2 separate regions of the Homo sapiens genome follow, and region 1 is linked to region 2. The links come from fine-mapping of genetic effects on gene expression. A gene starts in region 2. The other region holds a variant in brackets. All regions are shown on one strand. Distances are from middle to middle.

Region 1 (5,372 bases), 120 kb before region 2:
ATGTTGGCTCACTGCAATCTCTGCCTCCCGGAATCTAGCGATTCTCCTGCCTCAGCCTTCTGAGTAGCTGGGATTACAGGTGTGCGTCACCATGCCTGGCTAATTTGTTGTGCATTTTTAGTAGAGATGGGGTTTTGCCATGCTGGTCAGGCTGGTCTCGAACTCCTGACCTCAGGTGATCCGCCCGCCTCAGCCTTCCAAAGTGCTGGGATTACAGGCGTAAACCACCGTGCCTGGCCTAAATTAATACTTTAAATTAATTAAAATGCTTTTAAAAAGTCCAGAACAGGCCGGGAGCGGTGGCTCAAGCCTCTAATCCCAGCACTTTGAGAGGCCGAGTTGGGCAGATCACCTGAGGTCAGGAGTTCGAGCCCAGCCTGGCCAACATGGTGAAACCCCGTCTCTACTAAAAATACAAAAATCAGCTGGGCTTGGTGGTGCATGCCTGCAATCCTAGCTACTCGGGAGGATGAGGCAGGAGAATCCCTTTAACCTGGGAGGCAGAGGTTGCAGGGAGCCGAGATTGTGCCATTGCACTCCAGCCTGGACGACAGAGCAAGACAACATCTCAAAAAAAAAAAAAAAAAAAACAAGAAAGAAAAACTAAAATGGTACCATGTTTTGCGTTTTTATTTTTTTTATTCTTAGTTGTTTTTTTTTTTTTTTTTGAGACATGATCTCACTCTGTCACCCAGGCTGGAGTACAGTGGTGCAATCATGACTCACTGAAACCTCAAAACTCCTGGGCTCCAGCCATCCTCCTGCCTCAGTCTCCTGAGTAGCTGGGGTTTCAGGCACGTACCAGCACATCTGGCTAATTTCTTTTTTTAATTTTTAGTAGAGATGAGGTTTCACTATGTTGCCCAGGCTGGTCTCAAACTCCCGGGCTCAAGCAATCCTCCCTCCTTGGCCTCCCAAAGTGCTGAGATTACAGGCGTGAGCAACTGTGCTTGGTCCAAATTGGTATTACGTTTTCAATTCAGGCTTCAGATAGAAGGTACCCTAGTTTTATTGCCAAGAAGAGATATAATTTCTATAAAACAACTCTCCTATCTAGCTAGTTTTAGGAACACTCCTACTGGTCAAAGTATATAAAACTAAGGGGACCAGAGTTAGCTGTAACGACCTTGGGCTCCACATATGCCTGTACTTAAGAAAATTAATGAACATTCTTGGAAGGTGGAATGCATCTTTTACACCTGAGCAAATTGAGGCTTGGGTTACACAGCTCTGCCTGGCGCATGTGATTTATTTTCTCTCTCTTTTTGTTTTTAAGACCTAGTCTTGCTCTGTTGCCCAGACTGGAGTGCAGTGGCATGATCTCAGCTCACTGCAACCTCTGCCTCCCGGGTTCAAGCAATTCTCCTGCTTCAGCCTCCCGAGTAGCTGGGATTACAGGCGCCCGCCACCATGCCTGGCTAATTTTTTTGTATTTTTAGTAGAGACGGGGTTTCACCATGTTGGCCAGGTTGGTCTTGAACTCCCAACCTCAGCTGATCCGCCCTCCTCGGCCTCCCAAAGTGCTGGGATTACAGGCGTGAGCCACCGCACCCGGCCTGGGCAAGTGATTTCTTTCTGCCTAATTGTCTAGTCATTAACCGGTAACTGAAAATCACAAACAATTTCAATCTTAGGACTGATTGCCCAGCAGTCAATTCATGCAAGATACTTTTTTTTTTAAATTGAGGCTTCCGTGGATGGTGAAAATCAAAATTGGAATGATTTTCATATGGAACAATGAAAAGCGCCCCTTTCTGAGTTTTCTAGACTGACCTCTGACCTCTGTTTCGGAGGGCCCGGCTAGGGCTGGCCTGGGACTGCAGAGGATTTTGTTTTATTTCCTGTGGACTAAATTATGATAGGATTTTAGGCACCAGTAGAGGGCGCTGAGACACAGGTGGGCGAGCAGAAGACAGGCTGTTCGAGGGGAAGTAAACCTAATCGCGTTCCCTTTAAACTTTGTAATGACTCACCACGGAGTCAACTGAGGAAGTAAAACTTAATAGGAATAGTCTCAGTGAACAATGCCATAAATTGACACGCAGCCAAGTGCCAAGTTCTGATAACAAATCAGTAAGAAATGCAAGTTAAAGGAATGCCATTGTTCCCTTAGGGGGAAAAAAACCTCTTCTTTGTTAAAGCCAGTGATGACCAGCAGAGGGTAAAGCCAGTTCAGAAGGTCAACCGGCAGTTTTAGAAATTAATATGGTCTCACGCATGAATATTCTTACAGTAATTCTACTTGGGTGATTCAACTCTGACAAAAATAGCAGAGATGTTTTCTATTATTTATTTAATTTACTTACCTTTTTGAGACAAAGTCTCGCTCTGTCGCCCAGGCTGGAGTGTAGTGGCGAAATCTGGGCTCACCGCAACGTCTGCCTCCCGGGTTCCAGCGATTCTCCTGCCTCAGCCTCCCGAGTAGCTGGGATTATAGGCACCTGCCACCGC[G/A]CCCAGCTGATTTTTGTATTTTTAGTAGAGACGCGGTTTCACCATGTTGGCCAGGCTGGTCTCGAACCGCTGACCTCAGGTGATCCACCTGCCTCTGCCTCCTAAAGTGCTGGGATTACAGGCAAAAGCCACCGTGTCCAGCCACAAACTGTCTTATCAATGGCAACTGTCTCCTGATCTGTTGGCCTCACAATAACTGAATAATAAAGCTTACGTTTTGCCAGGCGCAGTGGCTCACGCCTGTAATCCCAGCACTCTGGGAGGCCGAGGCAGGAGTATCACCTGACGTCAGGAGTTCGAGACCAGTCTGGCCAACATAGTGAAACCCCGGCTCTACTAAAAATACAAAAATTCGCCGGGTGTGGTGGCAGGCGCCTGTAATCCCAGCTATACAGGAGGCCAAGGCAGGAGAATCGCTTGAACCCGGGAGGTAGAGGTTGCAGTGAGCAAAGATTGCGCCACTGTACTCCAGCCTGGGTGACAGAGCTAGACCCTGTCTCAAAAAACAAACAAACATACAACCCCACCCCCCAAAAGACCCTACATCTTAAAACAAGAGGCAAAATTGCCCTCCGTTGAGAACCACTGTTCTAGACTTAATCTGTTAGAGTCATTTATTTATTTTATGCACAGAATAACTTTGCAAAGAGGAATGACTTTTTATTTGTTCCAGATTCTAAAATAATCTATGCAGTCTTCCGTGCAGGTTGAGATACTTAAAACTCTATCGGCAAAGGCCGGGTGTGGTGGCTCATACCTGTAATCCCAGCACTTTGGGAGGCTGAGATGGGCGGATCACGAGGTCAGGAGATCGAGACCATCCTGGCTAACACAGTGAAACCCGGTCTCCACTAAAAATACAAAAAATTAGCCTAGGAGGCAGAGCTTGCAGTGAGCTTGCAGATCATGCCACTGCACTCCAGCCTGGGTGACAGAGTGAGATTCCATCTCAAAACAAAACAAAACAAAACAAAAACTATCGGCAAAGTCACAGCCATGGCTAATTATCATACGTTTGTTCAGCAAATTCACCTTCTTTTTGCAAACATAATTTACACCGTTTAATCGGGAATTTTACACAAAAAAAAAGATTCTAGAAAACATAGCTGTCCATAACTGTCATGGTTTCCAGGTTGCAAGTTCATAATCATTTGAATTATTCAAATGAGTCTCTAAATGCTACAAAAATAATGTCTTCTACAATGACAAGTTATGGAATAAATATATAGTTGATCCTAATTTCAGGACACTTGGTATGTAAATATTTGCTCACGTTTTTCTTTGATACGTACACAAAGACTAATGAGTAAACCTGTGCTCACTTATGTCATAGCTGCTTGAAGGTTTTTGTTTTGTTTTGTTTTGTTTTTTTTGAGACCGAGTCTTGCTGTGTCACCCAGGCTGGAGTGCAGTGGCATGATCTCGGGTCACTGCAAGCTCCGCCTCCTGGGTTCACACCATTCTCTTGCCTCAGCCTCCCGAGTAGCTGGGACTACAGGTGCCCGCCACCACGCCTGGCTTTTGTGTGTGTGTGTGTGTGTGTGTGTGTGTGTGTGTGTGTGTGTGTGTTAAAAGAGACGGGGTTTCACCATGTTACTCAGGATGGTCTCGATCTCCTGACCTCGTGATCTGCCCACCTTGGCCTCCCAAAGTGCTGGGATTACAGGTGTGAGCCACCGTGCCCAGCCGAAGTTTTGTTTTTTGTGTTTTTTTTTAATTTAAGCAAACATATGGTTTTTGTTTTTTATTTATTTGTTTTTGAGACAGGGTCTTGCTCTGTTGTCCAGGCTGGAGGGCAGTGGCAAGATCACAGTTCACTGCAGCCTCAACCTTCCAGGTTCAAGCAATCCTCCCACTTCAACCCCCCAGCTGGCTGGAATTACAGGTGCACACCACTATGCCCAACTAATCTTTGTATCTTTTTGTAGAGACGGGGTCTTACTATGTTGCCCAGGCTGAAATATATGTATTTTAAGGAAAGGATGAAGTAAATAGTATTTTAGTATATAAATAAGAGTTGAGTATCCTTTATCCAAAATGCTTGGGGCCAGAAGCGTTTCGGATTTCTGATTTTTCAGATTTTGGAATAATTGCATATAACCACAACAACCAACATTTACTGAGCACCACGTACTGTGTGTCAGGCAATGATCTGAGCCCTTTACATGCATTAAGTTACGTAATCACTCAACAACCCACGAGGTGTGTATTGTCATCAGTTTCGGTCCACAAAGGGGAAGCAGAGCGGAGAGGAAACCTGCGCAGGAGTGCGCCCAATACCTTTTGCTGTGTAACAAGCCTTCCCCTCCTGTGAAAGGGCCCTATGTGCAAAGCAGCCCCCAAATACACATGGAGTTAAGAAACTGAAGAATGAGGCAAATCCAGGTTATCAATATAAAGTTTCATTTTCTTCTTCTTTATTTGAGATGGAGTCTTGCCCTGACGCCTGGGCTGGAGTGCAATGGTGCGATCTCGGCTCACTGCAACCTCCACCTCCCGGGTTCAAGAGATTCTTCTGCCTCAGACTCCTGAGTAGCTGGGATTACAGGCGCCCACCACCACGCCCAGCTAATTTTTGTATTTTTAGTAGAGATGGGGTTTCGCCATGTTGGCCAGGCTGGTCTCGAACTCCTGACCTCAGGTGATCCGCCCCGCCTCGGCCTCCCAAAGTGCTGGGATTATAGGCATGAGCCACGGTGCCCAGCCCCTCCCTCCTTTCCTTCCTTCCTTCCTTCCTACCTTCCTTCCCTCCCTCCCTCCCTTCTTTCTCTCTTTCTTCTTTTTGTGGAGAAGGAGTCCTGCTCTTTTGCCCAGGCTGGAGTGCAATGGCGCGATCTTGGCTCACTGCAACCTCCACCTGCCAGGTTTGGCGATTCTCCTGCCTCAGCCTCCCGAGTAGCTGGGACCACAGGCACCCACCA
Region 2 (5,329 bases):
GCCGGGAGGCTGGGGGTTGCCCTGTCCAGCGGGCTGCTGAACTGTGGCCTGAGGAAGGGCTGTGTGTGGGCAGACGGGAGTTGAGGTGGGGGAGGGAACACAACGTGTGGGGCACTAGGCCCAGTTGCCATGGAGACACCCCCCATAGACAACCTTTTTCCACAGCCCCTCCTCGGAGCAGCCCCAGTCTGAGGCCAGCTGATGGGGGGCAGTGGAGACGGGCAAGCAATCAGGAGGCCAAGGTCACCCTGTACTGGGACCTAGGTTCTGGTTTTTGTTTTGTTTTTTTTTAATCCCCTCTTCGTCTAAGGTTTCCAGGCTCTTAACTATAGTGGGTTTGGGGGAAGAAGTTGAAGAAGCAGTGTGGAAGCAAGTAAGGAGTACATCCCCCAGAGGACAGTTGGGGTGGGGGAGACAGGCAGGGCTGGGGGCATGGTGGTCGGGGGAGAATGTGGAAGAGAGAAATGAAGGAGCCACGGGGCAGCGGGTGCAGGCTGGGAAAGTATTCCTAATTGAAAAGAGAGTTGTAGTCTTGCGGATCACATTTTTCAGAGGGACACAGTCTACTGGGGGGGCTCTTTCTGCATGTGGAAGAAGATGAGGGGCTACAGTGTGTGTTCCTGTACAGGTGAAGTCGTAGAGGGGAGTACTGGGGGGCGTTCCCAAGAAGGGAAGCCTGTGGGGGCCTGCGGAGGGGATTTTCCGGGGCAGAGGAGAACCTGGGAGCTATAGCGGTGGAGCAAGAGGAAGTGAGTCAAGGGAATTCTATATGATGAGAGAGAAGTTGGGGAGGATGCTTCCTGGTACATTGAAGAGAGAGTGGGCTTCAAAGTGAGTTAGGGGGATCTCAAGTTGGGGGAAACAGTGTGCTGAAGATCCCGTGTGATGATGAAGGGCTACGAGGAGGGGATTTGGAGGCAGTGGGAGCTGCTGTGAGTGCAGAGGGGCGGGTGGGTGGTACAGTGTGCCCCCTGCTATGGGAGTACAGGGCAGAGATTGGAATGGTCCTGAGTGGAGAGACATTTGGGGTCTGGAGGAAGCCATTCTTGCGAGTAGAAAATGCCGTGGAACTCACGGAGGAAATTTTTCTTAATGGAGGAGAAAACGATGGTTATGATATGAGTTCGTTTAAGTTGTGGGGGGGGGGGTGGCGGGGTGGGAAGATTCAGAAAACTCTTCTAAAGCAAAAGAGAGGGTGGGGGTTTTCCTGGAGTAAAGGCATAGTATGGGGTGGGGAGTGAGTGGCTTGTGGGGAGACAGTGGGGGCTGTGACAGGGAATGGGCTGGAGATGGCGGGGGGGGGGCAGCTTGCAAACCAGTGGGTCTGATGTTGGGTGCATTAGAATTCCCCAGGGAGCTTTTAAAAACTTACATGCGCAGGCCACACTGCAGACCAACCATGTCGGACTTTCTCAGGTGGGACTCAAACATCCGAATTTTTAAGGTCCTCGGGTGATTTCCAGGTGTGTTGGAGGCTGCCCGAGGCAGGAAGGGGGCTTCCAGGGAGAGGAGGCTGACTGAGGGTGGCTGGTGATTCCGAGTTGCACAAACTGTGAGGGTCAGCTGGGATTTTCTTTTTCTTTTTCTTCTTCTTTTAATTTTTCCTTTTTAGTTGAAGAGAGGTTGAGAGATTTATTTTTTCCTAAGGAGAGGAAACTGTGGGGGACCATTTGGAGTGATGGAATGACAAAAGCCAGACCGGAGGGGGCTCGCGGAGGTTACTCCCACGGAAGTGGTGCTACTCGGGCTTCTTAAGTTGTGGAGACGCTCAGGGAAAAGTTGGGCTGACAGGGAAGGGTTCTAGCGGGTGGAGAGGTGGGGCTTGCAGGGGAAGAGTGGGGAGAGCTGGTGGGCGCCGCATGGTGATGGGGCGGGGGTCGCTAAGGAAGGAAGAACGCGACGGGGGCTCCTGGGGAGGAGGCGGCGGCGTGGGGCTTGGCATCATGGCGGGGGGTGGCTTCCCATGCGATGAGGATCGTGGAGCCCCCTGGGGCGGAGGCGGCGCGGGCTAGGGGCGAGGGCTGTGAGTGTGAGCGGTGGTGGGGACTCCTCCGAGTGGGGTTAGTGGGATGGTGGGACGACTTTCTTGGGCAGAAGACAGGAGTGGAGAGAGATTTCATCTTATTTATTAATTATTAGCGGTGGTGGGGACTCCTCCGAGTGGGGTTAGTGGGATGGTGGGACGACTTTCTTGGGCAGAAGACAGGAGTGGAGAGAGATTTCATCTTATTTATTAATTATTAGCGGTGGTGGGGACTCCTCCGAGTGGGGTTAGTGGGATGGTGGGACGACTTTCTTGGGCAGAAGACAGGAGTGGAGAGAGATTTCATCTTATTTATTAATTATTAGCGGTGGTGGGGACTCCTCCGAGTGGGGTTAGTGGGATGGTGGGATGACTTTCTTGGGCAGAAGACAAGAGTGGAGAGAGATTTCATCTTATTTATTAATTATTATTATTATTATTATTATTATTATTATTTTTGAGAAAGAGAAGCAGTGGAGCCCCGAGTGGAAGGAGTTTCTGGAGCTGAGGCAGGGATTTTGGGGGGGGGGGGGCGGGGACTGGGGGAGGTACCTGTGCCTTCTTCTCCTCTAATGCGAGATCTCGCTCCTTGCCCTCCACCAGCCGCCGACCATGGCCGCGCTCTGACCCCCTCCCCGGCCGCAGCCTCCTCCTCGCCGCCCCCCTCCCCAGCCCCGCCGGCCCCGGGCCCCCCGCTTCTGCCTGCGCTGTGAACCCCCCCCCAGCCGCCGGCACGGCCCCGCCCCCGCTGCCCCGGTGGTGGCCCACGGCCCCCCGGCTGCCCGTGGTCAAACTGGAGTCGCTGAAGCGCTGGAACGAAGAGCGGGGCCTCTGGTGCGAGAAGGGGGTGCAGGTGCTGCTGACGACGGTGGGCGCCTTCGCCGCCTTCGGCCTCATGACCATCGCCATCAGCACTGACTACTGGCTCTACACGCGCGCCCTCATCTGCAACACCACCAACCTCACGGCCGGCGGCGACGACGGGACCCCCCACCGCGGGGGCGGCGGCGCCTCGGAGAAGAAGGACCCCGGCGGCCTCACGCACTCGGGCCTCTGGAGGATCTGCTGCCTGGAAGGTAGGGTGCGGGCGGCCCTCCCCGCAGCCCCCGCCGCTCCCCTCCGAGAGACCCTGAGCCTCCCGGGGCTGCCTGTCCCTGATCCTGGGGCCCCCTTGGGCACCCCTCCTCCTCTGCCAGAGGGGCTTCTGCGCCTTCCCACTCGCGCCCCTGACCTCCTCTCCCCTCCTTCCCACTCCTCCCTGCGTCCTGGCACCCTGCGGAATTCCTCGGCATGCTCCCTCTGCAGCCCCTCTGCCTCTCCGCTGAACCCCCTTATCCTATCTTTCCCTAGTCCGTGTCTCCTGCGCTGCCCCATCACACCCCTGCATCTTCCCTCTCTCCAGTACCTGGGGCTCCTCCTGTTTCATTTCTTCCACTCTGCCCTGTGCCTTTTCTCTTTTTTTTTTTTTTTTTGACAAGGTCTCACTCTGTCGCCCAGGCTGGAGTACGGTGGCACAATCACAGCTCACTGCAGCCTCGAATCCCTAGGCTCAAGCCATCCTCCCACCTCTGCCTCCTGAGTAGCTGGGACCACAGGCATGAGCCACTGTGCCCAGCTAATTTTTTTTATTATTTGTAGAGATGAGGTCTCCTGTTGCCCAGGCTGGTCTCGAGCTCCTGAGCTCAAGAGATCCTCCTGCCTTGGCCTCCAAAGTGCTGGGATGAAGGGCATGAGCCACTGCACCCAGCAGCCTCTTTCTCCCTCTTTCCCGTCAGTTCATCTTGACCCTGCTCCTCCGCTCCACCTGCCCCTTCATTTCCTCTCCCTCGTGCCCCGTGACATCTTCTCTCTCCCGACATTTCCCCCCCAGTCCTCTGAAGTCCCCTGCCTCTCCCGCCCCCTTTCACGGCCCAGTCTTCCGGTCTGTCTCTTTCCCCTTCTCTTTGGCTGCTGCTCCCCTGAAACTTCGTGCCTTAACTCGCCCTCACTCATGACTTTCTCTCTTTTCTGCCTTGTGCTTCTCCTCCTGTTCATCTTTCTCTTCCCATCAGTGCCCCCACCCATGTCTCTCCCACCAGGGTGCCCTCCAACCTCCCATCCTGGTCCTTTCCTCCTTTTTCCTTTAGTGGACTCCACTTCCTCTTCCTCCACTCATGCCTCCTTCGACGTCTTCCTGACTCGATGCCTCAGGCCTTCACGTTAAGGCTTCTCGCTCCTGCCCCTGCTACCTCCTCGGATCTTCGACTTGGTTCTTTTCCTCTGTCCTGTTCTCCCTCTCACAGCTTCTCTCCTAGCTCGGCTCCCTGGCTCTCGACTTCCCCACTTCTCCAAGACTCCTGCCCTCTGCTGTGCCAACCCCTTCTCTCTCCCACTCTTAGCATCAGTATTTCTTTCCTGAGTATCAAGTAGCTGCGGGGCTGGGAAGCAGGAGTCTTGGGTGCCAGTTCTGCTGCATATCTGCCCTGCTGTGTGACCACTGTCTTCCCTCCTGCACCCCAGCCTCACAGCCCTTGTCTGCAACGTGAAGGAGTGGAACCAGCCATCCTGATGCCCCCTTCGGCCAAAAGATTGAAATCTCTTGCTTCTCTTTTTCATCCCCCTCTATTTCCTCTGCCCCTTCTTCCTCTGTTTTGCTGAGTGTTCACGACAAGCCGGGAACGTTATCTCGTTTAATCCTATGAGGTGGGCACCACCTCGCTGTTGGGGATGGGTAAACTGAGGCTCAGAGAAGTGAAGTCACTTGCCCAAGGTCACCTAGCTGAGAAAGGGGCCGAGCCAAGAGCAGAACTCGAATCTCATGGATGGGATTCACAGATGCGCTCTGTCTAGTGTACAAAGTGTTTAAAACTGAAAGCAAAATCTGAATCCATTGCCAACAGTTAAAAATAGGGAGGCTTCCCATTGTAGTTCTGATTTCCGGCTTCTTCTGAGCTGGCGGAAGATCTAGCACAAGCCTGTGTTCTACCCTGACCACGATGGGCCGGATCTGAGCAGCAGCTGGGGGGTCTCCACTTCCCCACAGTCACCTCCATCTGCTCCGTCTCGCCTCCCATTCCTCCCACGGCTCTCGTGATGTTCTTTGCCTCTCCTGTGGAAGTTTGAGTTCATGTCCATTCACTGGTCTGACCAAGTACCAGGCATAGAGCCAAGTGTGAGGGCTCCCATCATGGGAGCCCTAGGACAGCACGTGGCATCTAGTAGGGATGTCATTCATTCATTCATTCGTTCATTCAACGTCCCATTTTTATTGAGTTTATATTATGTGCCAGGCATTGTTCTGGATTCTGGGGCTGCAGCAGTGGAAAA

Evidence for each region. PIP is the estimated chance that this variant, and not a neighbour inherited with it, causes the effect. A credible set is the group of variants that fine-mapping cannot tell apart.
Region 1: its variant is the best candidate, but not a certain one, in a credible set for the expression of CACNG8 in lung (TOPMed, PIP 0.79).

The regions. Positions count from the first base shown.
Region 1 is chr19:53,840,388-53,845,759 of GRCh38, forward strand. No RefSeq gene overlaps it. Among named protein-coding and RNA genes, the nearest start is that of NLRP12, 19 kb to the left of the region's middle. RefSeq lists an enhancer at 1-707. The variant G/A (reference allele first, on the strand shown) is at 2,452.
Region 2 is chr19:53,960,327-53,965,655 of GRCh38, forward strand. It overlaps CACNG8 (calcium voltage-gated channel auxiliary subunit gamma 8), which reads left to right and starts at 2,611. Exons shown (of 4, transcript NM_031895.6): 1 at 2,611-3,099. The coding sequence starts at 2,817. RefSeq lists enhancers at 1-641, 1,452-1,972.